2 separate regions of the Homo sapiens genome follow, and region 1 is linked to region 2. A link means that fine-mapping ties the variant in region 2 to the expression of a gene that starts in the linked region. Tissue or cell type: prefrontal cortex. Region 2 holds a variant in brackets; the other region holds the start of a gene. All regions are shown on one strand. Distances are between the middles of the regions. Region 1 holds the start of FBXL4 (F-box and leucine rich repeat protein 4). Region 2 overlaps FBXL4 (F-box and leucine rich repeat protein 4).

The links.
Region 1: FBXL4 starts here. The variant in region 2 is fine-mapped to the expression of FBXL4 in prefrontal cortex (CommonMind, PIP 0.95).

What each region holds. Positions count from the first base shown.
Region 1 is chr6:98,946,552-98,949,474 of GRCh38, reverse strand. It overlaps FBXL4 (F-box and leucine rich repeat protein 4), which reads left to right and starts at 1,529. Exons shown (of 10, transcript NM_001278716.2): 1 at 1,529-1,669. RefSeq lists silencers at 1,108-1,402, 1,700-2,009 and enhancers at 1,135-1,646, 2,450-2,639.
Region 2 is chr6:98,870,016-98,872,938 of GRCh38, reverse strand. It overlaps FBXL4 (F-box and leucine rich repeat protein 4), which reads left to right. Exons shown (of 10, transcript NM_001278716.2): 10 at 1-2,923. Among named protein-coding and RNA genes, the nearest start is that of POU3F2, 37 kb to the right of the region's middle. The variant A/T (reference allele first, on the strand shown) is at 1,575.

The DNA of each region.
Region 1 (2,923 bases), 77 kb before region 2:
GGTCATTATGATGAGTGAAATAAGCCAAGCACAGAAAGGCAAATAATGCATGTTCTCACTCATATGTGGGAGTTCAGAAAGTGGATCTCAGAGACTGAGAAGTATTGGGGGGGTGGGCCATGGGGGAGCAAGGGGAGGTAAACATACACTTAGAAGAAACATACACTTAGAAGAAATAAGACCCGGTGTTCCATAGATCAGTAGGGTGACTACAGCTAACATTTATCAATAGTACATGTCAAAATAGCCAGAAGAGAACAATTTGAATGTTCCTAGCACAAAGAAAAGATAAATATTTAAGGGGATGAGTAACCCAGTTATGCTGATTTGATTACAGAAATGAATCAAATTATCACATATACCCTGAAAATATGTACAGCTATTATGCATCAAAAAGTTGAAGAAAATAAAAATTTTAATTTTTTTGTATACAATGTATATTGCATATCATATATTGATTCTGTTCATATATAAGTAAATATCCTTACTGGTTTGCCTCATTGGAGCATTCAGACAGCAAATAATGTGTAGTTCAACATTTTATTAAATATTTTCCATCTTAGTGGATATTTTGTAACAAGATAAATATGATGCAAACTAAAAAAAGTGCCAAGGGCGGGCGCGGTGGCTCACGGCTGTAATCCCAGCACTTTAGGAGGCTGAGGCAGGTGGATCACAAGGTCAGGAGATCAAGACCATCCTAGCCAATATGGTGAAACCCCGTCTCTACTAAAAATACAAAATATTAGCTTGGCGCCCTTGTAGTCCCAGCTACTCGGGAGGCTGAGGCAGGAGAATCGCTTGAACCTGGGAGGTGGAGGTTGCAGTGAGCCGAGATCGCGCCACTGCACTCCAGCCTGGCGACAGAGCGAGACTCCGTCTCAAAAAATACATAAATAAATAAATAAAGTGCCATACTGAATCTACCAAAAATAAATCAAAATGAGTAAGAGAGGCTGCCAGACCATCTTCTTCATCAGAGGTAATGGTCAGAGGCTTCTGAACGTTGGTATGGAAATGAGCCTGCAGGCAGGATTTGTATGCAGGGAAGAGGAGGTTTGTAAACTAGGTGAATTATACCTTCAGAGTGCATATAATGTATATTATACTTTTCCTCTACGTATGCGTACCAGCCGTATTACCTATGTATCATCTGATCCACCAAGTCTGGACTGAAGAAGTCCTTGTAGGACCACACTACACATGGCGAGCCGGTACTCGGAAGGGATTATTCCGAAGAGGATTTGTAGACACTACCCGCTGTGTATGACCTAGGCCCTTTACACGGGCACCACTGGAGCTAGGAAGCCAGCAGAAAGCTCCTCCCCCTGGCCTGGGAGCGGGCTGTCCGTAGGACCCAGAGCACCTCCCATGGGAGAAACGCCCGGCTTTGCTTCTGGCCCCGCCCCGCCTCCCTCCAGGCCCCGCCCCGCCTCCCCGGCCCCGCCCCAACCCCGCGGCCCCGCCCCTCCTCCCCGGCTCCGCCCCGCCTCCCCGGGCCCGCCGCTCCTCGCGGCCTCCGCGTCTTCCTTCCGGGTCGCGCTAGGCCGGGCTTGCGGCGGTTGTGCCGCATCTAGAGAGTCGGGGAGCCGCCCCCGCACCCAGGCCTTCTCGCGCTGCCTGGTCGCTGGTGAAGCCCGCGGCGCGCGCCTCTCCCGGACCCTGCAGGGTACGGCCCTTCCTTTACTTCTCCCTCCCGTGGGTCTCTGTCTTCTTCCTTTGGCGCCGGGGCGGGGCCGGGGCCGAGCCAGCGCGCAGCTCCGCGCTTTGGGGAGTCTGGACGCCTGGCAGAGGCCCCCGCTGCCCGCCCCTCCCCGCCCGCGGCCCCGCGCCCCCGCGCCTCCGCTTCACGCTTGCGGGGCTTGCTGGGGCCCTTGAGAACTGCTGACGTGCCTCGGGCTCTTTCTACGCTACAGTCTGCCTGCAGGCTGTGAGGCGTCGTTCGGACGTGTGCGCGGCTCAGGGTTGTTTACACCGCGGGGGACTGCGGGTCGCCCCACACCCGCGCTCAGTGCTGCGCCGGCAGCCACGCGTCGGCCACATGCCCGCCTGTGCTTGTGATTCCTGTGCCTGCTGCCTTGATTTCCCTCTGACATCCGATGGTTTTTGCCTAACCAGGCCTGTTTTCTTTCTTCAGGACTGCTACAGGGTGCCCAGCTACAACCTTGTTTCTGTGTTTAGGTTTAGGGGTGCCCCTAGAGTGTGATGATGACCATCTACTTGGCCTCCTTGTCGACATATTTATAACGGGTGGTTTTGGATTTCCTTGATTTCCCAGTAATCATTGCCACAAACCTTCGAGATGCATTCACAGATTGAAATACAGTATACAAATAACTATTATAGAAGGTGAAGATGGTATAAGCCTGTGGTCAGGTAGTTGCGTTGGCAGGATGCCCGTCTGGCTTTGTGCTCCGGAGGGCACATTACCACCAGGTGCAGGGATCTCTGCTTGCTTTGGTCTGTTCACAGACACAAGCTGCCTTTTCTGGTTCTTGCGTGCACTCCTTGGTTTCTTAAGTTCAGCTATAGGTATATATTTTTTTCTTTCAGGCTCACTTCCTGCCTCCATTATCCTGTACCGCATATTGTATCTGTTGGTTGAGTAGAGAGAGATTCATCCAGAGTCATCAGCGCTCCAATAGTCCTTTATCAGATTAAGGACTTGAGGGAAATGTGCATTATGCTTTAGTAGGCACTCTAAAAGTTCCTTGAATTGGATTCTTCTTTCCATACTTATGTTCTGAGTACTAACTTTGTTTTAAACTTCTGCGCCAAAAGTTGGCTTTTCTGAACTCTGCATTTTCAAACTCTTCCCTTCTGTTATTTGAAAATCAGATAAGTCAACTCATTGTAAGATGGATAATTTCTTTACTCACGCCGTGATGAAATAATGCGATTATAGTACTCTGTACAATGGTAC
Region 2 (2,923 bases):
TTGCATTGACTAATTCAATTCTCACAACAACCCTGTAAGATAAATGCCATTACTTACCCCCATTTACAGATGAGGAAACTGAGGCAAAGAAAGATTGAAGAATTTATTTATGATCATACAGCTGCTAGTGGCAGAGCCAACATATAAACCCAGGCCATCTGGCTTCTGAAGCATTGCATTAAACCTGTGCTTTTAGGTGTTCAGGGTAGCTTCTGGCTCTAGGGCAGAGGTCAGGAAACTTTTTCTATAAAGGGCCAGATAGTAAATATTTTAGGCTTTGTGGGCTAAGAGGTAAAACTGAGATTGTTATGTAGATACTTAAATAACTAGAGAGAAATAAAATTTGCACGAAAATTTTATTGACAAAATTCAAAACAATAATTTAGAACAATTTTTTTTGTAATACGGGTTTACTAATGAAAAGAATTAAATATTTACAGGGAGGATCAAAGTTAATGTTTCGTGTCATTAAAGTTGATTGTAAGTACTCATTTGTTAATGCTGATCTGTAATAAGATTTTATGTATTTTACTTCTGAAAATTCCTTGCAGATAGGTATTGTCAAATACTTACATTAATCCATGAGAATATGATTTTTGTTGAGCATATTCATCACTTGAAAGGTTACTTCTTCTCTGGATATTTTCCTTTTAGCATGTTATTACATTGCAGCTTAATCACTTCCAATTGAAGACTAGGCAGAAGCTCCTCAATTGCACTGTTAAATTGATTTTGAAAAATGGAAATTTCCTTTACATTTGCAAACTCCAAAAAATACTGCAGGCACTATGGTGTGAGCTACAAATTTGTGTGAGAGTGGAGATCTCGCTTCTTTGTCTTACCTTTTGATAGCACAGGAAATGTGTAAAGCAGCTTGTTGTTACTTGTAATTCAAACAATGTTGTCATCAAAATGACTTATGTTTTGCTTGTAAACACGTTTTGCCTTGTAATTTTGGCTTGAATTCATTTCAAAATTTTATTAAGTCTTGAGCAAAAGCTAAATTCCAAAGCCATTCAGTGTTCCATAATAGTGATTGAGGACATGTCTTCTTTTTCAGAAAAATGTCAATATCAGCCCTGAACGCAAAAGCTCACAATAGAACTAACACTATTATGCCAATGTGGTTGGGCAAATCAGCATATTCATCTTCTGTATCTGACAAAAGATAACTGAACCATTGATGTTTAATCTATCAGAAACTATGAGAGCAAATGAAGTTCACCATTGCTACCAGTAGTTCAGTAATACAAAATTGAATCAAATATATCCCACAAAGTACCTGCTGATGAATAATACAGTAAATAACCATAGATTTTAAATACCTTCTTACCTTTTCACAGGCTTTATAAATTTGACAAACGTAATCATTTTGCTTCACACATTTTTAACACCACCAGTTGTAACACATCTTAGCAGATTCTACTTCAGGTTGCATGAAATTTGTGTTTTCTTCTTATAAAATATTCATGCTTGTAATTGTGCCACACAGATAATTCATAGAGACTAATTTCAGTCACTTCAACGTTGGCATTGACTTATCAAATAAGCAATAACTAGGCAGTGTCAGTAAC[A/T]TCTGTTGACTCATCAAGAGCCAAGGAAAACCACTCAGGGTCATTTGCCTTGTTTTTTATTGACTGTTGATGTTGTTCCCAGTGTTCTCAATTCTTTAAGCAACCATTCTTGCCAAAAGGCTAATTTAATAGTCTTAAGTTTACTTTGGACACAGTCCTTCAGCCGATAGAATCAAACACAATTTAGTTATCGTTAGTAAAATGTTTTCCTTGCTTGGTTAACATCTGAGTCACTTTGGCTGCAACTTTATTTTCATTTTTGAGTTTGTTTTTTTTTTTTTTTGAGACTGAGTCTCATTCTTTTGCCCAGGCTGGAGTGCAGTGGCACAATCTCAGTTCACTGCAACCTCCACCCTGCAGGTTCAAGCGAGTCTCCTGCCTCAGCCTCCCAAGTAGCTGAGATTACAGGCACATGCCACCACACCTAACTAATTTTTATGTTTTTAGTAGAAATGGGGTTTTACCATGTTGTCCAGGCTGGTCTTGAACTCCTGACCTCAAGTGATCCACCCACTTCAGCCTCCCAAAATGCTTGGATTACAGGCATGAACCACTGCATCTGACCTCCCTATAGTATTCTTTAAGAACAGCTATAATGACATTGCATATTAAACATCATACTCTGACATCTAATCTGATTTTTAAAAATTCATATACTAATGTGCCTTAAAAATGTCACTTCAAGTCTACTTTTCTTTTTTTCTCTTGTTTTGATGTTATGGGTAAGCACTAGTAATAAAAAATTTAAAAATATTGTGGTATGACAACATATGTGGCACTCAAAATGCTGGTAACTGCATTACTGCAGTTTTTAGTGTGCCAAGTAGCAGTGCAAAATGATGACAGCACCACATAAGTCTCCTTTGCATTTGTTCAACTCTGCCATTCTAATGTGAAAGCAATCATAGACAGTACCTAAACGAATGAGTGTGGCCATGTTCCAATAAAATTTCATGAGCACTGAAAGTTGAATTTTACATAATTTTGATGTGTTACAAAATACTACTGTGTTAGCCATTAGATTTTTTCAGCCATTAGAAAATGTGAAACTGTTCTTATGAGCTGGCTGGATTTGGCTTGTGGACCAAATTTGTGACCCCTATTCCAGAGTATTTTCGAGTCAGTTAATCCATGTTTGCCCATTCCTAATTTTATAAACCACATTCAAACCTGTTAATTCGCTGTTATCATTCTCATTTTGCCATTTAGATTTTAAAATGAAGAGCAGTGTTTTGTTAGAAAAAACAAAATGTTTACCATAACAAGAAAGATGTGTAGACAAGAAAGATATTTATGTAGACTCTTTGTTTGTTAAATTTTGAAGCCAGGTGATGCATTGTTAGCTTTGA